Regions from separate parts of the Homo sapiens genome. Here regions 2 and 3 are each linked to region 1. The links come from fine-mapping of genetic effects on gene expression. A gene starts in region 1. Each other region holds a variant in brackets. All regions are shown on one strand. Distances are from middle to middle.

Region 1 (10,860 bases):
TATAAAGTGCCATGGAGCCCTAGGGATTCTATGAAGTGTCTCAGAAGTCACTTTGAGAAGGAAGTCCAAAAGGCAGGACCTGACCTACTCCTGATAGGCACGTGGACACATACACACACACCCCAAGCAGTGCAGAGTTATGCCACTGCGACTGTCTTTATAAATATGGCTTTCTACATTTAGATTGAAGGGAGGATTTGCTGCTAAAAAAGTTTGAGGCCCATTCTTGCAAGTGATCTTTAAGGCCCCTCTTAGCTTTAATGTCTGGGACAGGGTCAGAGTTGTAAAGACATAACTTTAGTAAATCAAGACAGTCAGAGGATACTTTGTATTCACCTGGCTGGGTCTGTCCAGAATGCAGATATCTGATGCCTTTGAAAGAAAAGGCTGTGCCTGAACTCTGCTGATCCAAACACAATTTGAGAAAGCGTGTTGATTGTATTTGTGGAGATGGCCTTCTTAAACAGGGCCAGTTAGAAAAAACATAGTCTGAGTTTTCTTCTCCCGTGAGCTCCACCATTCCTTGAGGGTTTCAGTTGGTCAGGGATGAAAGGTATGTAGCATTAGTGGCTTGTTTAATGCTAACTCCTTGTTTTTCCTCTTCCTCTCTATCTTGCCTCATCTTCTTTTTACCCTGTCCACCTTCAATCCTGTCTACCTCCTGTGGCCCCAAAGCCAGCTGGTAGACCAGGAAGTGGGAGTCTGTATTGGTAGAAAATGAATAAATTCACTTACTCCTTCAAGTCCTGCCTTTCCCACACTTGTATTCCTACACAGAGCAAAGAATTGGTGCTTAAGCAATAGCCATGAGGCAGGTGTCTTGAGGAATGCATGGGGAGCCAAGTATTACTTTTCCTCCACCCTATAGCTCATACCCCTTCATTAAAAGCTACATATGTAGAAAATAATAAAGTTGACAAAAAACCAAGTGTTAATCACGGTGATGATGACAATACCTTTCTAAAAAACAATTATTGAGGTATACTTTATATGCCATAAAATTAGCTCATTATTAGTTACAATTCAATGACTTTTAGTAAATATACAGTATTGTATAACCATCACCATAGTCCAATTCTGGAACATTTCCATCATCCCAAAAAGATTTCTCGAGCTCATCTGTAGTCTCTACCTGCTCTCGCCTCCAGTCCTAGGTAACCACTAATCTACTTTCTGTCTCTATAGATTTGCTTTTCCTGGGCATTTCACATGAATGGAATCATATGACATGTGATGTTTTGTGGCTGGCTTCTTTCAGTTGGCATACTCTTTTTAAGGTTAGTTTATATTTTATCATGTATCCTTTATACGTAACACCTTTTTGAATGGCAGCATTATATAGAGGAAAAAGCATGAAAATCAGAAGCATGCAAACATGGGGCTGAATCAAAGCTGTGTCACTTCTTAGCTGTGTGACTTTGGGCAAGTTCCTCAATCTCTCTAGACCTATTTGTAGAATAAGAATAATAATCCCTCCCTCAGCTGAAAGGAAATAGCTGGGTTGTGATGACAAATAGTGGGCGCGCAAGAAATCCAGTTCTTCTCTCTAAATTTCGCCAAAAACCTTTGCTTTTCTCACTCCTGCTTCAAACTTTAAAGTGACTCCTACAGCCTCCCTACCAGCCTTCACATCAAGCTTGAAACAAGAACCCACATAACAAATGATATCAGAAACGGAATTCCGCCAAAGGGAATCACATCCTTCATTAACGGAGCCCAGATGGTGAGGAACTAAAGGGATTTCCTTCAATTATATTGCTGTCATTTTTTATAACGAATGTTAAATTGCATTTAATTATTATTGTAAGGGGGGAAATGTGTCAAGTTCTATCCTAGAATATTTTATGGAGTTGGTTTTCCTTTGGCAAGGCTCTAAGAACATCTTATTTTCCCACTAATTCTTATAAAACTGCCCCCATTAACATCAACACACAGATAACATGCAAACAAGTAGCAAAGAGCTAAAAACACCAGAGTAAATAAAATCCACCTCAAGCCAGGTACCATGGTGCATTCTTGTAGTCCCAGCTACTCTGGAGCCTGAGGCGGGAGGATTACTTGAGTGCAGAAGTTTAAGACCAGCCGGGGTAACATAGCTATAATACCTCTCAAAGAAAAAAAAAATCCACCTGAAATCCTCCAAACTCAACTTTTAGTCAATAGTTTCAGACCTTTTCTTTCCTGAACCTTCAGAAGACCCTGAATTTTGTGTGTGTCGCAAAATAGACTGAATCGAACTCCTTGTTCATTCCTCCAGCCCACCATCTCTGATTAGAACATGTTCTCATTTTGAGTTCCAACTCAGAGGGATCCTAAATGCAATCCCATCCTATAATCTAGGACACAAAGTTTACAGAGTTGCTACTCCTTAGCCTTGAGAGAAAATTTCCTGTCCTAAATCTGCTTTTCCTTTTGAATTACTGTTTATCTGTACTTCTAAATTTACCAGTGCTCCTTCACATTTCTGATTTTTTTTTTCTGTCTCTCTCCTTGTCTGAGATTTATCACAGCTGTATTTCTTCACCAAACTCCTGAACCACTTAATTCCCCTCCATTTCCCGGATTTACTTCTTGTTAAGAATAGTATAAGAGTTAAAACAGAAAAGGATAAGGCTTCTCAATATTTTTACTAAATAAAATATGGTTATAACATATTTTGTTTATCCCTCTCTTCAAGGAGATGAGTACAGCATATCATTTTTCATGATATAAAATGCCTGTGGTCAAATGTAAAGTAATTATTAACAGAGGCAGTATATGGCTTTCCAATCTTTATAAACTTTATAATCACTATACATATTATTGGAATTAAAGATGGCAAACAGTGATTCTTTCAAATAGGTAAATTAGATATACTTCCTACAAGTGATCAGCTTGTAACATTATCAGGTGAGTCTAATTTGAACTTCTGCTGCGATAAAGCTATACTCACATAGATAAACAGGTAAATACTATATCCAGACTGAACAAAGCACTTAAATTAATGTATTGATGTATTTGTATAAGGATTCCTGTGTTTCCTTGCTCTAAGTACTTATCTTGAAAATAGGAACTGTTAACAAAATCCATGGCTAACTTTTTCCCCAATATTAAGAGATGAAAGAAAGTGTAGGTAGGGTCCCAAGAGAGAAGTTTTCACATACTGAATTATCTCCTAATACAGGCTAGAAAAACGATAAATCTGATGAAAATAAATAAAAATTTGGGGGACAAAATCATGTTAGGTTTATTGAGATATGTGAATTTCCCCAATCTTTAAAAACTGTTCTTATGCTAAAACTTACCCCTTCCTATCACCACAGTGAAGAGAGTAATTTATATCTAAGACCTTATTTTAGGGATTTTATTTTAGGCGGTATCATAGGAATTTATCTCATGGTATAAATAGTTTAGTAAATCTGGGATTTGGGAAAGAGTTTTTCTCTACAGCACAGGCCTTTTGTTCAGCAGCAGATGACAAAATAATTTTGAGGCAAGATGATTTAACTTCAGTTTGATGTCCAGCCATCCACCCCAAATCTTATGCTCCAAATTCCAGAATGTGGCCAGAGTATTGAAAATTAAGTTTTTAAAAAATCATTTGATCCAAATCTTCTAAATATATATACATATATGCAAGAATGACACAGCCTTCAAATTATGGTTTGGCCTATAGTTTGTGTATAGCTCTCTAGAGAATTTCGATCTTAAGGTTAAAATCTCAAATATGTGGAGATCATGTCTGAGGACTTGACTACCATAAAATTCTGTCAGCATCCATGCATCATGTATATGGATTACCAAATAATGCCGAGTCTCCTACCCTGAGATGGCAGCCAATTTTTGGTGTGCCTGACGGGCCATTTCACAGCCTTTGGTTCTTGTCTTGTGCATTTCCGCCCGGAGTGAGGGGCAGCTGACCGAGACATCCCCAATAGAAATGACCAGCTCTCGGTACAGGGCCACTTGTGTGTTGAACTCTTGGACAAGCTGGAAAAGAAGTGAGTTTTTTTTTTTTTACCAAACATTTCTCATCAGAAAGTTTCCTGTTTCGGAGTACATAAACAGGGGCTTTCACTGACCCCTGAGTCAGCTCCCCAGATCTCCAGCTAAGGAACCTAGGAATTGTTTAAAGCAGAAGGCACCAAAATGGCAAGTCTCTTTGTCCAAGGCAAGTATTTATTTCCATAGGCAAGCCTGGCCATGGAAGCTCTATTTCCAGACCTACTTCCCCTCACCCTTTCAGACTCAGTTTCTGAAGAGCAAGAGAGCATATTTGGAGCGCTACCATGCCACTCCCAGGCCAACAGAGAATGATGCTGGGGACTCCTACATAGACGGTCCCCTCTCCTACTGCTAGGACATGGCTTTTAAGTTGCACGGCGGGAGGGGCGGGGGAGGCGACAGGTAGGGTGTAATAGGCAAACCATTCACCTTTTGCTGGGCCACTGAACCTCTCGGCCTGACGGCCTGACGGGAAGACCAGCTACAGCCTCTGCGCTGGAACCTTCGACCCCTCCGCAGCGCCCCGTGCGCTGTATTTGGGTTTGTTTGCTACTCTGTCCCCAGAAAGCAGCATCCCCACCTCCTCATCCCTCCCTCCTCCGTGAGCGAGCCAGTTCACTGTGTCTTTCGCATCCACCATTCTTCGAGGGGGTACAGGCACAACCTACAGCCGCTGATCCCCAAGACCCTTGCTGTCACACTTCTTTCTGCAGGGTTATTACGACCAGGGTGTCACCCTGAATTTGGGGGACTGCAGATTTAAAAATAGTGCATGTGCCACGTGATCGGCATTGAGGAGCTGAGGGTGGGGGAGTGGCTGGCACTCAGGCAAATGATTAACATACATGACTCCCCCCACCCCCTCTCAATTAAAAAAAAAAAAAAAGAGGCGCAGTTTTCACCCACCATCTTGCAGTCGTCCAGGGCTCGTTGGGTTTTGTGGGCGCTCTCGGAGCCGCTGCCCCTGCGCTCCCAATCTCCGCTCTGCAGCGGGGGCTTGCTGATCTGGAAGATCGAGGAGCGGGTGGACCGGCTGGGGCGCTTTTTGCGCCCATTCGGTGCAGAACTCATGCATACACATCCACCAAGCCGAAGCCGCTGGTGCAGTGCGCCCCGGCGCGGGCGGCCCGGTTGTTGCCCTGGGCGCCGCCGCCAAGCAGCCGGAGCCCGGACCTGAGGCGCGCAGCTCACAGTGCTGGGGCTGGCTGCGCGGGTCGGTAACCTTCAGCTTGAAGGAGAGCCGGGGAAGCGCTAGCTGTGCCGTGCAGCATCGCTTCCACTAGCAGCGAGGAAGGAGCGCGATCAAGTTCTGCTCAGCAGCATTGCCGACCCTGTCCCGGGAGCTGGGCGCTGGCGCGGGCTCGCACTGCCTTCCTCTCGGCATGGATTGCAAGGCTGGGCGAGAAGGAACGCGCCGCCCGGCGGTTCCGAGTTTCCATTCAGGTGGGGGAGCAGCTTTCAAAGCCTGCGCTGCAAGGTGGGGGGCGGAAAGGGGTGTCGCTCTTGCTTCAGTGTCTTCCCGCAGCGGCACTCGGTTCGTCTTTCCCCTCCCTCCACTGTCGCCAGGCCTGGAAGGACTGGCCGTCCCCAAAGCAAGCAATTGGCTCTAATCGGCTGCCTTGATCCCTCGTCTCTAAGGGCTTGTCTGTTTGAAGATCCCAGATGAATCTGTGGCGGGACTGGCAGACGCAGAGAATCGGTCCGGCTGACGTTGTTCGCGGGCCCGCACATTGATAGGACGGGAATACTAATGTGATCTGTCCATGCAACCCCCTTCCCCCTCCACAGTTTATGCACTTATCCAATCAAATCCCCGGGAACATCAATTGCAATATTACTTCATCTGCTCTATTATTAGAAACGAAAAGTGTCATCAGAGTGGAGCACATGCCACATGCTGGGACCTAAACATGGATTTCAAATAAGCCAGTGTGGGCTTGAGGCCCTCACCAACTGAGACTGAGACAGGGGCCACAGGAGGGAGTGAGGTTTTGCTCCAAATGGAAGACCTCTTGATAACCTAAAAGGAGAGCTTTGTTTCCCTGAGTTGTTTTGTTTTTATTTTGTCCTTGTTCATGGAGGGGGAAAGAGGAGAGCCAGTGAGGCAGAATGCACAGAGGCATTCACTCAGATTGGGCCTCATCCCCATCCCATTTCAAGTAGTAAAGCTCTTGGTCTTGCATTGCAGGGTCTCAGGACTCAGCTCCTAGAGTTCCCTTCCGGAGACTTGAACAAATAAGAGCCAAGAGATCTCCCTGGACACTCAAAATGACCTTCTTCTCACTTATGGGATATCAGTAACCCAGAGGCCAACAGAGGTGGCCCAGAAAATCGGGGATGATTCTTGTGTGAAAGGAGTGGGGGTGAGGCCCTCAGCCATTTAAGTTCACCCTTCCCACTGACATCTTCCTAAGGTTCTTCTGGGAGGAAGAGAGAGTGTTGTGGCATTCAACTCTAAGGCTCTAAGGATGCTTGTTCTCCTGAATGATTTGTTTGGAGAGGGAGATAAAGGGGTCTCCCATAGGAAAACTAGTTATGTATTAGTAATCCTAATAAGAACAGATTAGAGGTTCCTGGTCAGTCTGTTAAAGGGATATGGAGAGTACATAGAAAGAGAAAGCCTGAAATAGCCAGGAAGGTTAATATCCTAAGGAGGGTGGCTTTACAACCTTTTCTACAAGACAAGTAAATATAATGGGGTACTATAATAAGAGAGTTATTTGGTCTTTGTCCCCAGTCCCTAGGGCAGAACTCCTAAAACCCTTAGAAATTGCCTGAGTTATTATGATAAGCCATCTTGTCACCAGAAAGACCAAGCCTTGATTAGTTGCTTGCAACTTTCAGCCTCATCCCCCAATCTCAGGGGATAGGAGAGGAGCTAGTGACTGCGTTCCTCACCAATGGCCAATTATTTAATCAATCATGCCTACATAAAGAAACCTCTGTAAAACTCCTAAACAACAATAGAGTGTGGGGAGCTTCTGGGTTGTGGAAGACATCTAGGTGCTGGAAGGGTGGTACACCAGGAAAGAGCATGGAAGTTCCATGTCCTTTTCCCATACCTTGCCCTATGTTTCTCTTCCAGTTGGCTGCTCCTCAGTTGTATCCTTTAGAATAGACTGCTAATAGTAAGTAAAGCTCTTTCCTGAGTGCTGTGAGTCATTCTAGTGAATTACCAAATCTGAGAAGGTGGTTATAGGAACCCCTGAATTTGTCGCCAAGATGGAGAGAAGAGTTGGTAACCTGTGGATCCCATACTTGTGACTGGCCTCTGAGATGAGGGCAGTCTTGTGGGACTGAGCCCTTAAACCTGTAAATCTGACGTTAACTCTGGGTAGTTAGTGCCAGAAATGAGTTGTAGGCCACCTAATTGGTGTTAGAGAGTTGGAGAAGTGCTATTGGAAAAGACATCATGTATTTGGGTGGGAAGGAAAAAAAACCTAACAGATGGATCACTGAGTGGATATTTGGCTACATTTTTTTTTTTTCTGAGTCAGGGTCTTGCTCCGTCACCCAGATTGGAATTTAGTGACACCATGAGAGCTCACTTCAGCCTCAACTTCCTGGGCTCAGGTGATCCTCCCACTTCAGCCTCCCAAGTAGTTGAGACTACAGGCACATGCCACCTAATATTTTGTAAAGACAGAGTTTTGCCATGTTGCCCAGGCTGGTCTTGAACTCCTGAGCTCAAGTAATCCACACACCTTCACCTGCCAAAGTGCTGGGATTACAGGTGTGAGCCACTGCGCCTGACCAGAACTTCACACAAGCTTGAGAGTGAGTTTTCCCTATCAAAGACTAGAGAAAGGAGGCATCAGCTCTCAGGCCCAGACCTTGGTGTGCTGCTATCCTCCAGGTGTTTAGATGTCCCAGAGACTGAGAGAAAGGGCTCTTCTGCTGGTTGAATCTCCCCAAATATAAGAAGATAACAGGTTAGTGCTTAGTCAGCTCCCTGACCCTTTCTCTTTCCTGCAATCTCAATTACCTCCCCTCCCTTCCTCCCTCCCTCCTTTTTTTCCTTCCTTCCTTCCCTCCTTCCTTCCTTCCTTCCTTCCTTCCTTCCTTCCTTTTTTCCTTCCTTCCTTCCTCTCTCTCTTCCTTCTCTCTCTCTTTCTTTCATTCTTTTGTTCATTCGTTCATTCTACGGAGTCTCACTCTGTTTCCCAGGCTGTAGTGCAGACTTCTGAGTAGTTCCACAGACATGCCTGAGTTGGCCGCTCCTGAGTTGTATTCTTTAGAATAGACTGGTAATAGTAAGAAAAGCTCTTTCCTGAGTGCTGTGTCATTCTAGTGAATTACCAAATCTGAGAAGGAGGTTGTAGGAACCCCTTCCTACAACCTGAGCTGAGTGGACCACAGGCACGTGCCACCACACCCGGCTAACTTTTGTATTTTTAGTAGAGACAAGGTTTCACAATGTTGGCCAGGCTGGTCTCAAACTCCTGACCTCAGGTGATCTGCCTGCCTCAGCCTCCCAAAGTGCTGGGATTGCAGGCATGAGGCTCTGTGCCCAGCCCCAATTTTCTTTCTACTTAACGCGTGTAAAGAGAGAAGCAGAAAAACACATCAGGTGCCTGGGGTTTTGTGAGGGGTGAGGATGCTTGGGATGATGAAGAGGAAGATAACAGAGAGACTGAGGGGCTTTAAAGAAGGATCGATAATATTCATTTGTAGATGGTTTAAGTCCTGTGTTATAAACCTCTTTCACTGTCACTAGCTTACCCCTGCACTCTCCACCCAACTTTCAGGAAAAGTCTGCTATAACCCATTGTTGGTGGTGCTTTGGAGAACTAAGGGAAAAGGGGCTACCTTTTACATGTGTGTGCACATGGGTTGAAGAGGATAGGACACTGGAGATCAGTCTGCTGGAAATCTTTTTCCATGGCTCTGTTGATTCATCCCCTTTTCCTGTGAGGAAATAGCCACTTCTACCAGATTTGAGCGTCTTAAACCTACTCAGTAGTAGGTTTCTACTCCAGTTACAACCATCTGGTTTCTAACCCCCACCTCCCTTCTTCTGCCTAGAGACAATTTCAACAAATTAAAAGAAAAAAAGGCAATATAATTGCACTGCCCTATTTCTATGCCATATTTCTTGCAGGAGCTGGGGGGCAGGGGTGGGGGATGGAATGAATAGGTCAAATGCAATGCCACGTCTGAAAGACTACTGACTTGGGAACCTGCTGGGGGATTAAGCGGAAATTTCACTCGTAGGTGCCCCTTGGCCTTCCCTGATACACAGCCCAAGCCATTTTCCTGAGAAGGGAGAAAAATAGCATCAATCTCAGAGCTGTCTCTCCCAGCCAGCGACAAATGCTGTAATCAGAATAGCAGCAGGCAGGCTTAGTTTCCTAACCTTCCCCCACATTCAAAACTGCATGAATTTACATTCCTGAGGCTGTCTGACTGCCAAGTAGAAGGGTAAAGTGTAGTTGGAAATCTCAACAACAGGCACATATTTTGATTACCCAGACCCGATTTTGGCACATGCCTGATCATTGGTCACCTATAGGTATATGGCTTTGACAAGAGTCACATCCTAGATTCACTCCAATATAAGATATACCTTACATTTTGTGTTCTCTCTGTGATAGTTTTGAGAATTCATTTTGATTTGAAATTTTAAGAAACATCAGAGAACATCAGTTTAGAATGAATATGAGCAATTGCTGAGTTTCTTCAAATTGGTTCTGTAGGGAACCGTAGTGGGACCCAGAAATGAACACTTCATAATGGATTGGCCTCTCATGAGAGGTGATAGTAGGAGGCAGGTTTCATCTGGGAATAAAGTTCAGAGAAGTGAAAAAAAGGGGGGGCCCTTACATGAGTGGGTCTCTGATAGAGGCAGAGAAAAATACATTAAGATTCTGAATTCCAGAAGCTAGGGAGATCTGAAGGGCATGATCAAGTTATTTTTTTGTTAGTGTCAAAAGATAAGAGATAAAGTTATTCTGAAGAACTTAGTGAATAAACTATCTAACAGATGGTTTCTTTCTGCTAAAAGCATAAGAGGGTGCAATATGTTGGGAACATTTATTTATTAATTTCACAAATATTTTTGGGTATTCTTGTTAGGGACAGATCCAGGTTTTGTTGGTCTTGAAGCTTATACAATTTGGGAGCCCCTCTTAAAGAAAAAGAACACAAAAATTTAAATACAAGATGAGATACATTGTCTTAGAAGGAGCTTATGCAAGTGAGGTTCCCTGAAGTTTAGGCTTCATGAAATTCACGGTAAATTTCAACCTTGGAGTGTTTCTTGTGTGCATAATGGGCATCTAGTGTTTTGCTTGCTCAATTTTTATTCTCCCTTTTCTGATGATAGCACCTTAAATTTCCTATGAGAAATCAGTCCTCTCTCACTTTTTGCCCACATGGCTCTGTGCATGGGCATATGATTCAGGACTGACCAATACAAATACTGTATCTCAGTGGCCACAATGACTGGTTTAATAATGGTTATGAAATCTAAGTTGGACCAAAGAACTTTAGCATTGGGACTTTTTCTGGAACTATTAGGTTGAAAGATATGAAATTGCCATTATTCAACCATTTTGACCTACATAAATAGCAATTTTATATATTTCAACCTAATATTTAGTTTTTTTTCTTTCCATTGGGTTGGTAAACTGGTAAGATGAAAGCTGGAATTTCTGGTGGCCATTTTTGCCATTCATAGTCAACAGACTGCCTGAGATCTAACCCAGAGGATCAGAATGGAGAGATGGAGAGATATTGATTCTTAATTATATTATTTGAGTTTGTAGATCCATCTCTGCCTTAAGTCAAACTATACCTGCAATTTCATTTAGGTGGACCAAAAAATTTCCTTTCAAATTAAGTCAGTTTTATTTGGATTACTACCACTTGCAACCA
Region 2 (10,860 bases), 990 kb before region 1:
ATGTTTAAAGGAAAATTACCTGCAAGGTTACAAAGTTTGTATTAGCCTATTCATAGTGGGAAAAAAAACAGCAATTTTTTCACATTGATATCATATGCACAAAAGTGCATATCTTCAGACATTAGTATTGCAAAAGTAAGTAATAAACATCTGGTAGAAAGTTAACTTACGAGAGAAATACTCGTGGGTTTTTTTTTTTTTTTTTTTTGATACGGAATTTTGCTCTTGTCTCCCAGGCTGGAGGGCAATGGCACGATCTTGGCCCACTGCAACCTCCCATCTCCCAGTTTCAAGCGATTCTCCCACCTAGGCCTCCGGAGTATCTGGGATTACAGGCATGTGCCACCAAGTCCGGCTAATTTTGTATTTTTAGTAGAGATGGGGTTTCACCATGTTAGCCAGGCTGGTCTCGAACTCCTCACCTCAGGTAATCTACCCCACCTTGGCCTCCCAAAGTGCTGAGATTACAGGCATGAGCCACTGCGCCTGGCCAGGTTTTTTTTAAAAAAATATATAAGACAAGATTTCCCTTATTTTTAGCTTATATTTGGGTCAAAGTGTTTTCTGGTTGTTCTTTGACTGTGGAACATGATATTCATACTTAGTATAATGATCGCAAGCAAAGGGTTGTGTTTGCTTCAGGACAGTTGCATATTACAAAGAAGCCAATGTTTTTGGCTTTTCTGTTAAAAAAAAAAATTTTTTTAGCAGGCCGGGCACGGTGACTCACGCCTGTAATCCCAGCACTTTGGGAGGCCAAGGTGGGCGGATCACGAGGTCAGGAGTTCTAGACCAGTCTGACCAATATGGTGAAACCCCATCTCTACTAAAAAATACAAAAATTAGCCAGGCGTGGTGGCACGTGCTTGTAGTCCCAGCTACTCTGGAGGCTGAGGCAGAGAATTGCTTGAACCCAGGAGGCAGAGGTTACAGTGAGCTGAGATCAAGCCACTGCACTCCAGCCTGGGCGACAGAGTGAGACTCTGTCTCAAAAAAAAAAAAAAGTTTAGCAAGTAGACAAAAAGTATCTTAAAGATAATAGAAAAAGTTCTAAATATTTTTAAAAATTTTAAATGTGCCAATTTAAATTATAAATTTCTGTCTGTAGAAAAAGAAGACATCTTTAGACAGAGTTAGAAGGCAACCCACAGAGTGGGAGAAAGTATGGTAACTATCCAACAAAGAATTCACATCTCAAATACATAAAGAGCTCTCCTAAAATCAACAATTAGAAGACATTCATCCTAATTTAAAATTATAGGCCGGACATAATGGCTCACGCCTGCAGAACAGCACTCTGGGAGGCCGAGGCAGGCGGATCACTTGAGGTCAGGATTTCGAGACTTGCCTGGCCAACATGGCAAAACCCCGTCTCTACTAAAAATACAAAAATTAGCTGGGCATGGTGGTGTGTGCCTGTAATCCCAGCTACTCGGGAGGCTGAGGCAGAATCGCTTAAACCCAGGAGGCAGATTTTGCAGTGAGCTGAGATCGAGACACTGCATCCAGCCTAGGAGACAGAGTGAGACTCTGTCTCAAAAAAAAAAAAAAAAAATATTACATTGGTGGGCAGGCACGGTGGCTCACACCTGTAATCCCAGCACTTTGGGAGGCTGAGACAGATGGATCAATTGAGGTCAGGAGTTTGAGACCAACCTGGCCAATGTGGTGAAACCCTGTCTCTACTAAAAATACAAAAATTAGCCAGGCATGGTGCCTGTAGTTCCAGCTACTCGGGAGGCTGAATCAGGAGAATCACTTGAACCTGGGAGGTGGAGGTTGCCGTGAGCCGAGCTTGCACCACTGCACTCCAGCCTGGGTGACAGAGCAAGACTGTCTCAAAAAATAATAAATAAATAAATAAATAAAATTTAAAAATTTATATTGGTTAGAAGACTTAAGAACCCAGGCACAGTAGGTGACGCCTGTAATCCCAGTGATGTGGGAGGATTGTTAGAGCCCAATAGTTTGAGGCTGCAGTGATCTCACCACTGCACTCTAGCCTCTAGCCTGGGTGACAGAGTGAGACCCTATTTCTTAAAAAAACAAACCAAACAAACAAAAAAAGACTCTTCATGTTAGAGAATAAATATCCTGAAAATGTTTTAAATATCTCTTCATATTAGAGAATAAATATTTTGAAAATGTTTTAAAGGAAAGAGAGGACTTCTAGTTTCAGACTAAGATGGAGTAGACACACTCCTCTCTATTCCTCCTGTTAATTGTAGCTTAAAACTTTGCACATTATATGTAATATACATGTTAGGAAATATCTGAAAAGTGGAGCGAAGGCAGCAGACTGCCTAGGGACTTTGGGACACAAAGAGGGACACAGCAGTTTTCTTTTTGCCTTATACGTACCAGACTGGATGCTAGAGAAGATCATAACCTTGAAAACACCAATGGAAGATAAAAGTTTCCCAAAACTTTGCTCTATCAAAAGGATGAGGAAAGAGGCAACACAGTAAGACAGAAAACTTTTCAACTATAACCACCCTACTGCAGCTAAACACCATGGAAAAAATACCACCCTACCACCACCCCTGTCCAAAAAGGCCAAAAGTAGTGGACCTCAGCTTCCACCCTTGTTGAGCTATAACATGGTGTCCTGCCCCTGGGGTGATCAGAGAAGACTGAGTTGGGAGTCAGGACTTTCCTCCCTGCCAGCAGTAAGAAGGCCATGTGGTGGTTCTGAACTTACATACCCACCCAGTAGTAAAGAGGCAACCCTGTTCATTAGAGGAAGCCATGTCAGAACTTTCACCACCATCCAGAGGTAAGGAGGCTTCCTACTCTTGACTATAGAATCAGTGGAGGCCACCTGGCAATCAGTAACAAGGTGCTCCTTCCTTTCCTAGCCAGACTGATGTCAATGGAGGCCTTTGAAGAGGCTGAATTTCCACAGCTGCCCAGATGTCACAAAGCACTTCTGTTTCCCTACCCTGGGTGTCAAAAAGCCTGAGCAGAGAACGTGGACTTTCACCACTACCTGGTAGTGATGAGACTGTGCCCCATTTCCCCTCCACCAGAATTGTGTCAAAGGTGGCCTGCTAAAACAAGATTTGAGTAAGATCTAGAGTGTTATAATAACCAAAATGTCCAGGGTACAATACATGCCCGAAGAACTAGGAAAATCTGAACTTTAATGAAAAAAGACAACATACAGCAACATCAAGATAAAACAGAGGGCCAGGAGCAGTGGCTCCTGCCTATAATCCCAGCATCTTGGGAGGCCAAGGTAGGTGGATCATATGAGGTCAGGAGTTCGGGACCAGCCTGGCCAACATGGTGAAACCCCATCTCTATTAAAAATACAAAAACTAGCTGGGCGTGGTGGTGGGTGCCTGTAATCCCAGCTACTAGGGAGGCAGAGGTAGGAGAATCACTGGAACACGGGAGGTGGATGTGGCAGTGAGCGAGATTGCATCATTGCACTCCAGCTTGGATGACAGAGCGAGACTCTGTCTCAAAAAAAAAAAAAAAAAAAAAAACAAACTTAGCAATTGCAAACATGCCTGAAACAAATGAAAATAGAAAGTCTCAGCAAAGAAATAGAAGATATAAAGAAGAATCATATTGAAAAGTTTAAAATGAGAAGCACAATAACCAGATTCAAGATTCAGTGATGGGCTCAATAGCAACATGAAGAGGACAAGAGGAAAGAATCAGCAAAGTTGCAGCTAGAACAATAGATATGGCCAGGCACCATGGTTCACGCCTGTAATCCCAGCACTTTGGGAGGCTGAGGTGGGTGGATCATGAGGTCAAGAGATCGAGAACATCCTGGCCAACATGGTGTAACCCCGTCTCTACTGAAAATACAAAAAATACAAAAATTAGCTGGGCATGGTGGTGTGTACCTGTAGTCCCAGCTACTGGGGAGGCTGAGGCAGGAGAATTGCTTGAACCCAGGAGGCAGAAGTTGCAGCGAGCCAAGATTGCGCCACTGCTCTCTAGCCTGGAGACAGAGTGGGATTCCATCTCAAACAAACAAACAAAAAACCGAAAAAACAAAGAACAATAGATATTCCTTAATCTGATTAACAGAGACAAAATATGATGAAATCAAATGAACAGAGCCTCAAAGACCTGTGACACTATATCCAGAATCTACAATGAACTCAAACAAATTTACAAGAAAAAAACAAACAACCCCATCAAAAAGTGGGCGAAGGACATGAACAGACACTTCTCAAAAGAAGACATTTATGCAGCCAAAAAACACATGAAGAAATGCTCATCATCACTGGCCATCAGAGAAATGCAAATCAAAACCACTATGAGATATCATCTCACACCAGTTAGAATGGCAATCATTAAAAAGTCAGGAAACAACAGGGGCTGGAGAGGATGTGGAGAAATAGGAACACTTTTACACTGTTGGTGGGACTGTAAACTAGTTCAACCATTGTGGAAGTCAGTGTGGCGATTCCTCAGGGATCTAGAACTAGAAATACCATTTGACCCAGCCATCCCATTACTGGGTATATACCCAAAGGACTATAAATCATGCTGCTATAAAGACACATGCACATGTATGTTTATTGCGGCACTATTCACAATAGCAAAGACTTGGAACCAACCCAAATGTCCAACAATGATAGACTGGATTAAGAAAATGTGGCACATATACACCATGGAATACTATGCAGCCATAAAAAATGATGAGTTCATGTCCTTTGTAGGGACATGGATGAAACTGGAAACCACCATTCTCAGTAAACTATCGCAAGAACAAAAAACCAAACACCGCATATTCTCACTCATAGGTGGGAATTGAACAATGAGATCACATGGACACAGGAAGGGGAATATCACACTCTGGGGACTGTGGTGGGGTCGGGGGAGGGGGGAGGGATAGCATTGGGAGATATACCTAATGCTAGATGACACGTTAGTGGGTGCAGCGCACCAGCATGGCACATGTATACATATGTAACTAACCTGCACAATGTGCACATGTACCCTAAAACTTAGAGTATAATAAAAAAAAAAAAATTAAAAAAAAAAAAAAGATCTAATATTTTTGTCATCAAAGTCCCAGAAAGAGGAGAAAGTGGGTGGGTTTTAAAATAGTGGCTGAATATTTCCCAAATTTGGTAAAAAGCATAAACCTACAGATTCAAGAAGCTGAGAGAACCCCAGCTCAGGAAAGGATAAACCTAAAGAAGTCTACACCAAGACACATTGTAAGTAAACTGAAAAGAGAAGGCAAAAAGTCTTAAAAGCATTGAGAGAGAAAGGATACCTTACCTATGGGGAAAAACAATTGGGAGGACAGTAGATTTTCATCAAGCACCGAGGAGGCCAGAAGGAAGTGGCTTAATGTTTTTCAATTGCTCAACGAACTGTCAGCCCTGTCAGATATCATATATCTGGTAAAATTACCCCTTAGGAATGAGGGGGAAATAAATACATACTAGATGAAGGAAAACTAAGAGAGTTTGTTGCTAGCAGACCTACCCTAAAAGAAGGCTAAAGAAAGTTCCTGGCTGGGTGCAGTGGCTCACGACTGTAATCCCAACACTTTGGGAGACTGAGGCCTGCCAAGCTGAGGCCAGGTGGACAGCTTGAAGCCTGGAGTTCAAGATAACCCTGGGCAATAAAGGGAGGCCTCATTCTCTATTTAAAAAAAGAAAGTCCTGAAACATAAAGGAAATCATCAAAGAAGGAATCTTGGAATATTAGGAAAGAAGGACAACAGGAAAGAGCAAAAATGTGACCAAATACAAGACCGGGTATGTTGACTCACACCCGTAATCCCAACACTTAGGGAGGTTGAAGCCTGTTCTCAAGACCAGTCTGGGCAACATGGCGAGACTCTGTCTCTACAAAAAATAAATTAGCCAGGCGTGGTGTC[G/A]TGTGCCTGTAGTCCTAGTTACTAAGGAGCCTAAGGCAGCAAGATTGCCTGACCCAGGAATTTGAGGTTATTGTGAGCCATGATCAATGCCACTGCACTCCACCCTGGGTGGAGTGAGACCCTGTCTCAAAAAAGAGACAGAATCAGACCCTGTCTCTAAAAAAAAAAAAAGAAAAAAGAAAAAGAAAGAAAAAAAGAAAAGAAAGAAAAAAGAAAGAGAAGGAAGATATATGACCAAATACAATAGTTTTCTTCTTGAATTTTCTAAGTTATGTGTCCATGATTGAAACAAAATATATGATTTGATTCTCAGTGATGTAGAGGAAATATTTAAGACGATTGTAACTGGGGAAAGGTAAAGAGGTTTAAAGGAAGGTAGGATTTTACTTCATTCAAACTGATAAAATGTCAATACCAGTAGACTATGGTAAGTTACATAAGTGTTATGTAAATGTAATAAATAAAGCAATCACGTACAAAAAACATATATAAAGAGATATGCCCTCAATCCCTAGATGTATTCCTTGAAGGTTGGGAATATATCTATATGTGTATATTGATATATATTTACATAACATTAGAGAGATATATAATATATAAAAATGTTTCAGAAATTATTAAAGATATTTTAAAAGTAAATTATTTCTAGGCTAGGGTAGCAAATGATAATGTAAGGAAATTGTAGCCTAGTCTTATGAACGTAGATGCAAAATCCAACAGAAAATACTAGAAAAACAATTCATACCAATTATACATACAGTATAAGAAATTTATAATGCTGAAATTCAATTTCTTCCTTCTTGGCATTTTTGTTATTGTCAGATCTTTTATTTTGACAGATGTTACAAACTCCACACTATATTGTTTTTATTCTAACTTAAATAGACTTTTGAATATATATGTGTATATTTTATTTATTTATTTATTTGTTTGTTTGAAATAGGGTCTTGCTCAGTTGCCCAGGCTGCAGTGCAATGGCACAATCATAGCTCATTGCAGCCTTGAACTCCTGGGCTTAAGTGAGCCTCCCACCTCACCCTCAAAAAGTGCTGGAATTACAGGCGTGAGCCACTGTCCTGCCTTTTTATTGGAACATTTCGTTCATTTATATTTACAGTAGACAGACTTCTAAAACCCTGTTCAATAATTTTCACCTCCTGGTATCCCTGGCTTTGTGTTATCCCCTTCCCATTAGGTGTGGACCGGGGAACTTATGACTTGTTTGTAATGAATCAATAGAACAAAGGGACATCACTTCTGAGACTAGGTTACAAAAGACTGTGACTCCTATCTTGCTGTCATTCTGTTGCTCTTTCTCCTTTGCTTACTTTGATGAGGTCAACTGCCATGTTGTGATTGTCCATATTGTAGTTTCTTATCACTAAGGGTGACTGCTTCTAACAGCCCGTGAGGAACTAATTTTTTTCTTTTTTTTTTGAAAGGGAGTCCCACTTTGTCGCTTAGGCTGGAGTGCAGTGGGGGCAATCTTGGCTCACTGCAACCTCCATCTCCCGGGTTCAAGCGATTCTCCTGCCTTAGCCACCCGAGTAGCTGGGATTACAAGCATGTGCCACCATGCCCAGCTAATTTTTGTATTTTTAGTAGAAATGGGGTTTCACCATGTTTGCCAGGCTGGTCTTGAACTCCTGACCTCAGGTAGTCCGCCCGCCTCAGCCTCCCAAAGTGCTGGAATTACAGGCGTCAGCCACTGCACTTGGCCACTATTTTTATTTTATTTTTATTTTTTGGAGACGGAGTCTCACTCTTGTCGCCCAGGCTGGAGTGCAGTGGCGTGATCTTAGCTCACTGCAATGCTCCGCCTCATGGGTTCAATCAATTCTCTGCCTCAGCCTCCCGAGTACCTGGGATTACAGGCACCCGCCACCACGCCTGGCTAATTTTTTTGTATTTTTTTTAGTAGAGATGGGGTTTCACCATCTTGGCCAGGCTGGTCTTGAACTCCTGACCTTGTGATCTACCTACCTCGGCGTCCCAAAGTGCTGGGATTACAGACGTGAGCCATCGCACCCAGCCTTTTTATTTTTATAGTAAAAATATACTCATAAATACTTTGGAAAAAAAACAAACAGCAAAGTATAAAGATGAAAATTAAAAACCCCACCACCCAGAGATAACCACTTGTAACCTTTTTTTATTACTTAACCTTGATCCTAACTGTATGACATGTGCTAGAAAATATGAAATTATGATCCTAATTTTATGAAGTAAAGTGTTTACGTATGCATTTTATGTATATGCTTATAATGTTCTTTATGATTATACTATATAATGAGCTCTGCTTCTTTTACTCTTTGTTGTATTTTTCTCATAACTAGGTAATATTAGAAAAAACATTTTTAAGGCTACTGGATTATTAACAAAGTAGGAGTACCATCATTTATTTTAACAATTTTTCTATTATTGGCTATTGAGGTTGTTCCCAGTCTTTCACTCTTAGAAATAGCACCGTGATCAATGTCTTTATGTAAATTCCTAGAAATAGAGACACTAGGTCAAAGAGTATAAGTGTTTTGTTTTGTTTTGTTTTGTTTGAGACAAGGTCTCTATAGCCCAGGCTGGAATGCAGTGGTATAATCATGGCTCACTGCAACCTCAACCTCCCTGGCTCAAGTGATCCTCCCACCTTAACCTCCTAAGTAGCTGGGACTACAGGTGTGCCCCACCATGCCTGGTTAATTTTTTGTGTTTTTTGTAGAGACGGGGTTTTGCCATGTTGCCCAGACTGGTCTAAAACTTCTGGGCTCAAGCAATCCACTCACCTTGGCCTCCCAGAGTGCTGGAATTACAGGCATGAGCCGCCTTGCCTGGCCACTAAGGCTCTTGATTAATATTGCCAAATGCCTTTCCAGAAAGGTTGAAGCAATTTATACCACCACCAGCAGTGTATGAGAGTGCCCATTTAATGGAACCCTTGCCAACAATGAGTATTTTTTAAAATTTTGTCTATTTGATTATAAAAATCTTGTTTTAATTTATATTTATTGGATTATAAGTGAGATGGAACTTTTTTTCATAGATTACTGGCTGTTTGTATTTCTTCTTTTGTGAATTTTTTGTTTCCTTGATCGTTATTCTAGAACAGTGCTGAATAGACACCTAATGCAAACTGTGTATGTAATTTTATAATAAATTTTCTTGTGGCCTCATTAAACAAGTAAAAAGAAACAGGTGAAATAAATTTTAATGATAAAATTATTTTAGTAATAAAAAATCTTAATAAAATTTATTTAACTACATACACCCCAAATATTATCATTTCAACATTGGCACTAGCTACATTTCAAGTGCTCTTGTGAGTAGTGGCTACCATATTGGACAGTGCAGATTCAGAACGTTTCCATCATAGTGGAAAGTTCAACTGGACAGCACTAGCATGGAGCTAGAGCTTTTGATATTTTTTTATAAGGAAACTTTATATATTTAGTTTTTGTCTATCCTATTTGTTGTAGTTTTTTCCAGTATGCCGTTAACCTTTTAATTTTGTTTATTCTTTTTATTTACTAATATTCAAACAATATAGGTGGATCTGTCATTCTTTCCCTTTGTTGTCTATTCCATTGTTTTAGGTCTACCTATTCCCAGATAGTTAATTCTTCACCTATATTTTCTTCTGTCCCCCCACCCCCATGTTTTTACAGACAGGGCCTCATTATGTTGCTTAGGCTGGGAGTGCAGTGGCTATTCACAGGCATGATCATAGCACACTACAGCCTCAAACTCCTGGCCACAAGCGATCCTCCTGCCTTGGCCTCCCAAGAAGTTAGGACTACAGTGACACACTACTGAACCAGGCTACCCTAGATTTTTTAATGGCTTCATTTGTAATGCAGTTATTTAATCCTGAAATTTATCACATTATTTTAAAAGTGTACCTGATTTATCAAGAAGCTTACTATGGTTGCATGTCTATCAATTTCTCCTTGGAGTTTGTAAGAGTTTCTATTTTAAGTATTTTGATGCTGTGTTATTTAGTGCATAACAGTTCGGGATTGTTGATCATTGTAAAGGACTATGATTCTCCTGGTCCTTTGTAGTAGTTTTTATTTTGACTCTACTTTATTTGAAATTAATATTGTCACCCCTGGTTTGGGTGGCAGTATTTCCCTAAGAAATCATTGCCCAAGCTTTAATTTTTAACCTTCCAATTTTATTTTGCATATACTTTTGTAATTATTGTTTTTGTGTGTGTGTGTGTGTGTGTGTGTTTGTGTTTTTTTTTTTTTTTTGAGACAAAGTCTCACTCTGTCTCCCAGGCTGGAGTGCCAGTGGCATGATCTTGGCTCATTGTAACCTCCACCTCCCAAGTTCAAGTGATTCTCCTGCCTCAGCCTCCTGAGGTAGCTAGGATTACAGACGTCTGCCACCATGCCAAGCTAATTTTACAATTTTAGTAGAGATGGAGTTTCACCATGTTGGCCAGGCTGGTCTCGAATTCCTGGCCTCAAGTGATTCACCCACCTCAGCCTTCCAAAGTGCTGGGATTACAGGCGTGAGCCACTGCACCCAGCCTTTTGTAATTATTTTTGTAACTGTGATTTAATCTTAACTCTGTTAAATTGATTTTTTTTCTTATTGCTGGTCCTTTTATATGTCAATTTCTCCCATTTTTGAGTTGTTATTTTTTATATCACTTAGACTGCTGATATATGCCTTCAATAATTACTTTCAAATACATATCTTATAGTCAGTATTCAATAAATATTGCCTGCATAAAATAATAAATGAATGAATGAAGGAAGGAAGGATGTTAAGCCTTTACACATCATAGAATGTCTTTCTGTTCTGTGGTAAAAAGCGTATGACTTTTTGTTTTATGAAAAGTCTACTTTTTACTCTTGAATGATGGTCTCATGTCTCTCTCTTTTTTTTTCAACAAACAATTTTTTAGCTTTTTTTTTCTTTTAAACATTTAAACATTTTACCAGGATATGTCTAGGTTTTGGTTTCTTTACATTGATTTTACCAGGAAAAGAATGAAA
Region 3 (10,860 bases), 28 kb before region 1:
CAGCACCACTGCACCTGGAAAAACTATAAAACGTCTAAAAGAAAACATAAGAGAAAGTCTTTGTAGCCTTAGATTAGACAAAGAGGTCTTAAATAAGACACCAGAAGCACAATCCATAATAGACAAAAATTGGTAAATTTTAGTTTATCAAAATTTTTAAAAATTTGCTCTGTGAAAAACACTGTTAAGAAAATGAAAATACAAATCTCAAACTGGGAAAAAATATGAAATTACATATCTGACAAATGACTCATATCCAGAATATATAAAGAACTCTCAAAACTCAATAGTAAGAAAACAAACAAACCAATGAAAAATAAGCCAAAGACTTAAACAGACACTTCACTAAGAAGGTGATGAATGCTAAATAGCACATAAGCAGATTCTTCACATCTCGAGTCATTAGGGGAACGCAAATTAAAAACACAAGATATCTCTCTACACTTTTAAAATGGGCAAAGCAAACAAAAGCTAACAATATGTAGTACTGAAGATGTCATTAAAACTGGAAACAACTGAGAGTGAATAGATAAACAAACTGGGGCACAGCTGCACAACAGAATGCTACAGAACAAATAAAAAAGAATGTGCATTCAACAATGTGGATGAATCTCAAGTAGAATCGAGTGGAATCTCAAATGAATTAGGCTAGTGGAAGAAGCTAGACTCAAAGGCTACATGTTGCCTGTAATTCCAGCACTTTGGGAGGCCAACAAAGGTGGGTGGATCACTTGAGGTCAGGAGTTCAAGACCAGCCTGGCCAACCTGGCGAAACCTCATCTCTGCTAACAATGCAAAAATTAGCTGGGCATGGTGCGGGTGCCTGTAATCCCGGCTACGCAGGAGGCTGAGGTAGGAGAATCTCTTGAACCCAGGGGGCAGAAGTTGCAGTGAGCTGAGATCGTGCCACTGCACTCCAGCCTGGGTGACAGAGCAGGAGTCTGTCTCAAAAAAAAAAAAAAAAAAAAAAAAAAAAGAAAAGGAAAAAAAAAAAGAAAAGAAAAGGAAAAAAAAAAAGAAAAGAAAAGGAAAAAAAATGGCTACATGCTTCTGATTTAGCTTAGATGATATTTTGACAAAGACAAAACAAAGGCAAAACAAAGACAAAATAGTAGGAACAAAATACAGATCAGAGTTTGCCGGGGCTATGAAAAGGGGAAGGGATTGACTATGAAGTGGCAACATGAGAGAATGTTTTGGGGGTGATGGAACTCTTCTGTATCTTGATGTTGGTAGTGGTTATACAACTCTACACATTTGTCAAAACTCATAGAAATGTACAACAAAAAATGAATTTTATTGTGTGTAAGTTAAGCCAATTTTTAAAATTAGGGAGACAGAAAAAAGTTAAAGATTGTTTTATAAAAGCATTCATATCTTTGATAATAATATTAATTAAAATTAGCTATGTATATGGTTTCCACTAAGTAGGTAAAATAATGCATACTTCTTAGGTTTATCAACTTTAAAATTCATAAATCCATAAGAAAACAAGTTAAAGAAGAGGTTAAAAAAAGAGCTTTCTATTTACTTGGATGAAACATTAGTTCTGTCTAGGGTTATGAGTTCTTTCCTCTTTCTTTCCTGTCTTTTCCACTCTTCCCAGTGTTCCCATGTGGCTGCCTGCAGATTTTTAGCACTAAGAGAAGTTTGTCATATGGATCTTCATTTATCAGGCTTTGAATAGCATAATGGAATGCTTTTAGCAGCATAGCAGAGCAGGCAGAGATATTCTTCATATGACAGACTCTTCCCTGGATCATCAATGAAAGTCAAGAGTCTAACACTAAAATCATGTCTCTGTGAAGGAATTTCTATCATAATCTAAAGCAAAATGGTCCATGATGTAGCTTTCTGGGGCTCTGTCTTGATCCAGGAATAGAACTTAGAGAAACTCACATTCCTAGGCTCTTTCTCTTGAATACCATGATTTTAGCCAAGTTTCTGGGGAGAGGTAAAGCTTAGAGAGCCCAAAGTGAACATCCCTAGCAGGTACAGTAAAAACTCTCCTACCCAGTTTACCAAGACAGGTAATTGGGTGGTTAAAAATTCAACGCTAACTATATATCTTAAACTTATTTTAAATTGAGACACATAATTATACATTGACCTACCAGTCTTCTGGTGATAGCCTAAACCAAGCTTGTAACCCGCGGACAAGGGCTACAAGTGACCCAGGAAGGCTTTGAATGTGGCCCAACACAAATTTGTAAACTTTCTTAAAACATTATGAGATTTATTTTTGCGATTTTTATTTTTAGCTCATCAGCTATCATTAGTGTTAATATTTTGTGTGTGGCCCAAGAGAATTCTTTCAACATGGCCCAGGGAAGCCAAAAGATTGGACACCCCTGGACTAAGACCTTCTCTTTGAGTATGAATCCACTGGTTGGAGTTCTTCATCTGGCAAGAACCATACTCATTATACATCATCTCCACTTGATCTTAGCCAAAAGGCTGAGAAGCGACACATAAAACATCATCTCCAATTTCCAGTTTTAATTTCTTTAAAGTCTAGAAGAAACTTGAAGATACTTGCAATGCACACCTAGTGCAGAATCATTCTGGAATTTTATGATTATTTGTCACAGTCTTTTATAGTTACCTTGGCCACACCAAATTTGATAGCATTTTTTTTTCTTACTAGCTCATCAAATTAATTTTTATGTTAACAGCTCTTTTTTCCCTCCTATTTCATCAAATCACCTAATCAAAATGTGGCAAAAACAGGTTTGGAAACCAGCATAGCTGACTCTTGGTAAGCATACAACTGAATGGGTGGGTCAGAAGTCCATATCTGGTACTAGAAGTAGCTTGCTAAACAAGGCATTAGTCAATAGGTTTCACAGAGGGAATGGAAAGTTTCCCTTAATCCAGTGACTCACGTAAGTGAAGGTCAGTTAAAAGAATACCTTTAGCACCTGAAATGTAGGTATTCTATGTTATTGATACATTTTGTTTTGAAAGTAATGTCTGTGATTTGCACACTGAATTGCAGGGATACATGTAAATAGGATGAAGATTTTCATCCTATAAGAACAACTATTACTGTTACTAAAGGTATTTGGATTTTTTATTGTGAACGCGTGCGACAATAAACACCATAAGGAACATAATCACCCTAGTTAACATAATTTCTTTTTCTTTATGCTCCCTGACCTGAGATATCTGATGCTCATTGGATTTCTCACATAGTCCCTCTCAGAATTTCCCATATGCTCTCCACTTCCTCACTGTACTCACAAGCTCTTGCTCCCAGTTGAAGTTTGTCTACAGAAATCAGAAATATCTTCCCTTTACTGGTACGGCTATGGGCTTCTGTCTTCAAACTCAGCCCTGCCCCAATATCATGAGCTACTTTTTGTCTGTTCCTTGATGTTTAATGAGGATATTACCTACCCAAAGAGACTTCTGGACTTCAGTTCTGAAAGTCCTGCTACACAGGGCAAGACTACTGTATTTTGACTTTGAGAGTGACAAATTATCCTTCTGTGCAAAATACAGACTTAAATTGGCACCTGTAGAGTAATTTATTTCCATCACAATTGTACCCCCAAGGGCTTGTCTACATAGACACCCCAGACAACTAAGTCTTTTCAAGACTTTCTGTGTTACCCATTTTGATTCCCAAGACTTTCTTCCAATAAAGTAGATTTTTACCTTTTTCAAAGCTGATATTAAGCTGCTCCTTTGACAATAACTGGCCAAATATTCCGTTGCTTCTTGAGGTCATAATCTAAAAGATATTGGCAGGACCATTTAATCTCCATAAAGGAGGATGTATGTCTTCCTGTCTGCTATGGAAGGAGAGTGAAAATCTAGTTCAGCTAAAAGCTATTTGAATTTATTCAGGTTTTAAGTTGAATAGGAATGTGAGAAAGTGTTACTTTGTGCTACTTAAAATTGAAGCTCTCTATGTTGGATAACCTTTCCTGTCATTTAATAATCAACCTTTCTTTCTTTCTTTATAGGCATTTTAAGGGGATCATATATTTTTCTCTTTGATTATTTATGATGGTTAGCTGAAGAGGTGGGGCTGGGAGGGAGCATCTTTCCAGAAGTTATTCCTGCATGGGGTGAGAGCAGAGCTAATCCTCTCCTTAGCATTCATTCATGTTTCAAGTTTCTTGTAGCCATTAGGTCAAACACGGGATGCACTGAGTATATTTAAGCTGAGATCAGGCATCTAGTGTATACACTTGTTCTTTAAGAAGAAAAATGTGCATACTTTAATAGATCTGTATATTCAGAGGTCTAGATCAGGATAGGGAATAAGTACATGTTTCCATGAAGAGCAGAAGCTCTTGGTAGATGGGCCAATAGCCACTGCCTCCACGTCCTCACATCTCACTTTCTCTTCAGCCCTCCAATCCAGACTTCTGTTCCCAGTGCTCCTCTGGCTGCTCATGTCAAGGTCACCAAGAACCTCTCTCACAAAATTCACTGGTCCCTCTGTCCTTATCTTACTGGACATTTCAGCAGCATTGGCAAAACTGTCTCACCTTCCATCTGAGACAGTTTTTCTCTTGACACCCAGGGCCCTATCACCCTAAATCCCTGGCCCCTACTCAGTCGCCTTTGCTGGATCTTCCTTTTCTTCCTAGGTTTTAAGAGAGCACCTCAGTGCCCAGCCCCTAGCTCTCCTTTGTTTTCTATCTACATCATCTCCCTACATGAACTCATCCAGTCCGAAAGTTTTAAATACCACCTCTATGCCAGTGCCTTCCATATTTAAATTTATAGCCCTGACCTTTCTTTTGAGCTCCAGATTTGTCCTAATGGACATTATCTTTTAATGGGTATTAATGGATGCTGAAAGGAATCACCAAGTTATTATGTTCAAACACAGCTTTTGATTTTTTGCTCTCTCATCTGCCAAAGGGTACCTCACCTAGACCTCCCTGTTTCATGGCACAGCACCACCATCAAATCAGTTACTCAGACCGACTTGTTTCTGATTCTCCCCTTTCCCTCATCCTCATCACTGCCCCTCCAAGCTGCAACCCTTCTGCAAATTCTGCTGGTCTTACCTCTAAACAGTTGCTTACCTCTAAAACAAGCAACTATTACCCAAGGGACGAATTCCTCTATTGCCCTGTACAGTCTTTTCTTACACATCTTAAAAACATAAATCTCATCCTCCAGTGGCTTTTCACTGCATTTTAAATCAAATCCACTCTTTCTTGTGACCTAGCGAGGCCCTGACAGGCTGGTTGCTAACTCCTTCCTGACCTTGTCTTGTCCTGCTTTCCTGCCTCTCACCACAC[TCC/C]AGTCTGTCAGGCTCTGGAACTAGCCAAGTTCGTTCCTGCCTCAGGGTCTTTGCATTCACTCCTCCTTCTGCCTGGCATGCTCTGCCCCAGATCTTCGCATGGCTGGCTCCTTTACCATTCAGATCTCACCCCAAATGTCATCTTCCCAAAAAGGACTTTCCTGGGTACCTGAATCAGCTGCTCTTTTCCTCCACCCACAGATGCAGCACACTTGCTCTCATATTATCCTTTTTCTATTACTGTCCTTATACACATCCCACTTTTGTAATAATCTTGTTTATTTATTTGCTTTCTTATTTATCATATGTCCCCTCTGGCAGAAATAAATTTCACAAGTGTAAGTCATGTCTGCTTTATTTCCTGGGGTATCCCCAGTGCCTGGTACATAGTAGGTACTCAATACATCTTTGTTGAAGGAATAATTGTAGAATAAATAGTTGTAGCTTAGAAATAGACATGAGGTGGGGAGGGAGAAGGTTGGCATAACGTTTAAACTTCTAACGGAGTTTTACTTCACTGTATCAAAATACAAAGAGGCATAAAGCTTTGAATGTATGTGAAATTGTTGTTAAAATCTGGGTCTCTTGTACATACTTTATTTATGGAAGAAAAATATGAGGTGATGATCTTTATGTTTAATTCCTCATCCTGCCACTTTCTAGGGCAGGGGTTCATAACTTTTTTTGTCCATTGGGATCACCTCAGGGGCAGGGCTTCGATCCCACCCCCCAGGTGGTCCCAATTGATGTGGGTCGTGGCCTGAGCATTAGGAGTTTTAAAGATTTACAGGTGATTTTAGTATGCAGAAAAACTTAAGAACTCGTGTTCTGGGAGATATTTATGGAACTCATGAAATATGCTTTCCAAAGCTCATGTAGTCTGGGAAATAGAGCCATTTACCTGAAGATCTAGCATTAGAGTCTTCAAAGCTTCTTATTCATTAGTATAGACAGGGACAGGGCCTAACTCATTCTGGCTGAGTTTGAGTATCACCAACCACATCAGTCTCTCTCAGCTCTAGATGTTTCAGGAGCAAAGAGAAGAGAATTTCTGAATGCAGGTGGAAGATGAAGGTCCACTCAAGAGGGAAGAAATGAAGGGACTACCTAGGTGGTCCAACTGAGAAGCTGGTATGGTCATCACCTGGGCCATAGCAAGAGGGAAGAGTTCTCAGGGGTGGCATCCAGAAGCTGTTTGGCAGAAAGGGAGATGGACTGGTAACAACAGCCTGGTGTGAGCAATGCCCTCGGAAATGAAGGCACAAGAGTGGCAGTCCAGATTCCAATCAGTATGTGTATATTGATGAGGCTGTGAGGTAAGTGGGCCAGAGGCACAGAGCTGCAAACAATACTGAAGGGGTAGTGTGATTATGCTAGGGATTCAGGCTGCAGCATGGGCTGACTCAGCAGTGAATGTGGGACAGGCCCTCCGCTACCCAAATACACTAGAGAAGAATGGCCTGAAAAGGGGGTTGGGGGTGTGTGGGGGCAACAGACTCCACAAATAATATGAGAGGTGGGGGCTCAAGTCATTTTACTTGGGTACTAAATGTAAGGGTAGTTTCCAGGAACTGAAGAATTTAGAGAAACTTTTGTTTCATTATTTATAGAGGTTTTTAGCAGCTGATGCTTTTACTTTCACCAGGAAGTAGAAAACTAGATCATCATTCTTTTTACTTATTGTTTTTAAAAGGAAATGGCTTTCCAAATACCTAAAAAAGCAAACATAGGTGCTCCTACATTCAACTTCCAGAAACAAAAGGTTATTATTTTGACACTTGAAACGGTATTTACACAATTTCTCCTAAGAATAAATGCTCTTTCTAAAGCCTATTCTGCCTCTCTACACTTTGCAGATTAAGCCTCATTGTTCTACGGGGCTCTTCTGTTTGGGTTTATGAAAACAGACACTGGGCTGATACAACCCAGGTACAGCTCCAGGAAAAAAAAAAAAAGGATATTACAACAAATTGTGGTGGTGCTTGCACTATTCAGAAAAAGATTTAAGCAATGATAACATCAAGTCATTGTTTAGCTCTTCCCATATACGGCTCCAGTTCAGTTTTTATCATCCAAATTAGTCCAACTTTAAGTATAAATCTGTCTTTGGTGAGCACCTTCTTTTTCATTTTCTGAAAGACAGTAAGCATGCCAAAAAGACTTATGAAACGAAATCTTTCAAGACCTAAGATTCTGTCTAAAAATAGCACTTCCCGATAAGCAATGAGCAATTTTTATTCTTTACTTGTGCTTGTATGCACATAGCAAAAGAGAGAGGGGGAAAAAAAAACTAGCAGGTAGGAAACTAAAGGATAGAGCAGGAGGGGAATTTCCAAGATGATGAAAAATTTTAACATTGTTTAAACATATTAGTAAATATGCTACTCCAATGTTATTAATAAAGGAGTTCTCTAAATTACCTAAATACCCTATGTTGTTTGAAAAATTCTCTCTAATTCTTGCATAGCAACATACGCTCAAAATCATGTGAGAACAAGCCTACCATACATGTGCACAAACAAGATTTTTTTCAGGATCTGTGAATTTTTATCTTCATTTTCCCAGAAGCAGATGCTGGAAACCTCAGTGCCTAGGACACAGAAAAGTGCATAATAAATGTAGGCTGAACCAATGAATGAGTGAATGAATGAATGAACAAACGAATAAGGAGCATATTTCCATACTGTGCCCTAGAATGGCTGTGACCTTATTGCATGGGGTGACTTCTTCACGGACTGCAGCTAGATTAGAAAATGAATGAGTGTAATCCCACAGACCTCCTAATTTGGAAGATGTCGAACAACAAACTCCCCAGGTGCAAGTTTTGTATTTTTTTTTCTCAGTGTGCAGATTGATTGAGTCTCCAATGACTCTGTTATTTACCACAGATTTTTAAAATTAAGATTGAATAAAGTATTCTTTTTAAAATAGCTTGTAATTTCCTTGGAAGCCTCTCTTACAAGATTTTCTAATACTGCAGAAAAATAGAAGGACGTATAGTTTTGAAACACTGTTCTGCAGGAGCCATTTTTTTAGTTGTCTTACATTCAATCCTTCTTCCTATTGAGGGACTCCCCATTATTGATGGTATTGAGGGTGTACAATGTCCACTATAGAAGAAGTGTCTTTCCATGGGGAGAGTATTTCCTCTCCTACTCCCTGCAACCAGGAAGCTGCACATGACCAACTGGGTTTTCGTACCAGAGCTTTGAAGCTGGAGTGTTTGACCCAAGAGGAAGGGATAATTAGGATTCATTTAGGGCAGCAGCATCCATCAGTGGTGTTGGCTAGGGCAACATCCTGGCCAGCCTGTCTCAGCTATGTAGACTGTGCATTCTCCTTGGTTTGTGTCCATTTTCCAACCCCTTTTCTCTTGTTTCCCCATGTGATTATAATGGTTCCCTTTGCATTATTTGGAATAATGATTCCAATAAATTATTCTACTTAATAAATATATCTGGAGCCACCTGCTCTTGCTTGCAAAAAAAAAAGAAAAAACCCTACTGACACATCTCCTGAATTACTGATTAATAACAGAGCTAAGTCTATTCTTGGCAGTTATAAGTAAAATGAAGGGAAAAGCAAAAATTATAAATAACCTAATACACTTGAACCACATTTAGACATGATTTGTACTTCCAGTCATGGCACAGTGGAAAGTATAGTGGCCTTTGAATCAGGGGGATATAAGTTCAAGCACTGACACTAGCATTTATTGCCTTTGTGACCTTGAGCAAGACACTTAATCTTTGTGAGCCTTCATTTCCTCGTCTATTACACAAGAATAAAAATATCACACAGGTATGTTCCAAGGACAATGTGAGATTATTTTTATCACGAAAGCACTTTTAAATCTTGAAGCTATTTTTGTCATTCTAGGCCAATAATATCTCTTCTATATAATCTCATTTTGTATGCAATCTACATTCATTACATATTTCCTACTTTCTTTTTCAGATAAACCTGGGAGATGAAATACTTCTGGCTTCAAATTCTAGTTTTTAAAAGGCCCCTATGTCATTACTTCCAATGTGAGCAATACAGTTAAAGTATGTTGTAAAGATGAGTAGATAAGTTTTTTTTCTCAATTTGAAAGCCAAGTTTACATTTGACCCGACTATCTCACTCTCCTAATGACGGGTGCATGCACACAGAGCAGTTCAGACCACAGCTCCTGACCTGGTGATCCTTCAAAGATACCATCTGAACACTTTGGCTTCTACTAAAAATTAATGTGGTTGAAACATATTTTCCTGGTTTATTGATGTCACCTGGTATGGAAATGGTATAGAAGTCCTGAAGTATAGAAGTATAGAATTGGTATAAAAGTCCAGCCCGTGGAGGTTCTTAAGTAGCCATAAATGGAAGTTTTCTGGCCATGTGATGCAGGAACACAACTAAAGGAAGGTTGTGAAAACTGAAGCAGAGATACAGAGAATGGGAGATGACATGAAGCTAGAACAGCAAGGATCCAGAATCTGGTCACTTGTCTTGGTGAAAGAGAAAGGGAGACAGCCCTTCTTGGAGGCTATACTTGTTCAAATAGATCCCTTGTCTATGCCAGTGGTTCTCAAACTTGTCTGCATATCAGAAACACCTGGAGGTATTTTAAAAATTCTGGAACCCAGGCCATGCCCCAGACCAAGAAAATCAGAATCTCTGAGGGTAGGACCCAGACATTGGCATTTTTTTAGGCTCCCCAGGCGATTCCAATGGGCATCACAAGCTTGGTAACCACTGGTTTGTATTGTTCTCATAACCTTTTTATTTCAGTAAACCCTGTGATCTGAAACCAACAATATCTTAGAGTTTCTTTTCTCCCATTCCTGTACCCAGTCCTGGTTCTCTTGGATCTTGAGCCTGACAAAAAGCCAAGATACAGTCATTATATGAGGTGAATATTCTATATCATTTTGAAAACATTTCTAAAGGCCTAATCACTTTTATAACAGAAAAATACTTGCTTTAAACCCAAAGTCATTTCCTTTATCAGCAGCTCGTCATTTCTCTAAGGCATTCTTTCTGAAATGAAATATTCTATTTTTGGTGTCAGACCTTGGACTATTTTTAAACACTTGAAATAATTCTCTTTTTTTGGTATTAAAATGGCAAAAAAGTACATTTTTCTAATCAAAATATAACCTCCCAAACTATTTTTATTCTATCCCAGATTGTTAAAGCTAAAATCTATAAGTTTTTATAATTCTCTTTTTCTGAATTACAATAAAAGTGTTATCAATGCCGCAAGTATTTTTGGTTAAGGAATATTGGAATACGTTGTAATAATAATAATAGCTGGCCTGTATTGAATACTTCTTATGTGTTCTATGTTTTGCTTAGTTCCTTACCTATATCACATCATTTAATTCTCATGGCAACCCAGTGAAATTGGTGCCATTATTATCCTCCCTCCCACTTTTTTTTTTTTTTTTTTTTTTTTTTTGAGATGGAGTCTTGCTCTGTCGCCCAGGCTGGAGTGCAATGGTGCAATCTTGGCTCACTGCAACTTCTGCCTCCCGGGTTCAAGCGATTCTCCTGCCGCAGCCTCCTGAGTAGCTGGGATTACAGGCTCGCATCACCACACCCAGCTA

Direction of the effects. Positions count from the first base shown, and alleles are read on the strand shown. Sizes are in standard deviations (SD) of each study's normalised expression.
In carriers of allele G in region 2, the expression in vagina of the gene that starts at base 5,665 in region 1 tends to be higher than with A alone (large effect, 1.0 SD a copy in GTEx).
For the expression in unexposed skin of the gene that starts at base 5,665 in region 1, C is the high allele of the variant in region 3 and TCC is the other (large effect, 1.0 SD a copy in GTEx).

Evidence for each region.
Region 2: its variant is fine-mapped to the expression of RGS7BP in vagina (GTEx, PIP above 0.99).
Region 3: its variant is fine-mapped to the expression of RGS7BP in unexposed skin (GTEx, PIP above 0.99). The same link has a PIP of 0.9 or more in minor salivary gland and sun-exposed skin.

What each region holds. Positions count from the first base shown.
Region 1 is chr5:64,500,820-64,511,679 of GRCh38, reverse strand. It overlaps RGS7BP (regulator of G protein signaling 7 binding protein), which reads right to left and starts at 5,665. Exons shown (of 6, transcript NM_001029875.3): 1 at 4,891-5,665; 2 at 3,803-3,969. The coding sequence starts at 5,055.
Region 2 is chr5:65,493,806-65,504,665 of GRCh38, reverse strand. It overlaps a transcript of CENPK not described here. Among named protein-coding and RNA genes, the nearest start is that of ADAMTS6, 17 kb to the right of the region's middle. The variant G/A (reference allele first, on the strand shown) is at 5,861.
Region 3 is chr5:64,528,663-64,539,522 of GRCh38, reverse strand. All of the region lies in intron 2 of RGS7BP (regulator of G protein signaling 7 binding protein), which reads right to left. It also overlaps the pseudogene RN7SL169P. Among named protein-coding and RNA genes, the nearest start is that of RGS7BP, 28 kb to the right of the region's middle. The variant TCC/C (reference allele first, on the strand shown) is at 5,268.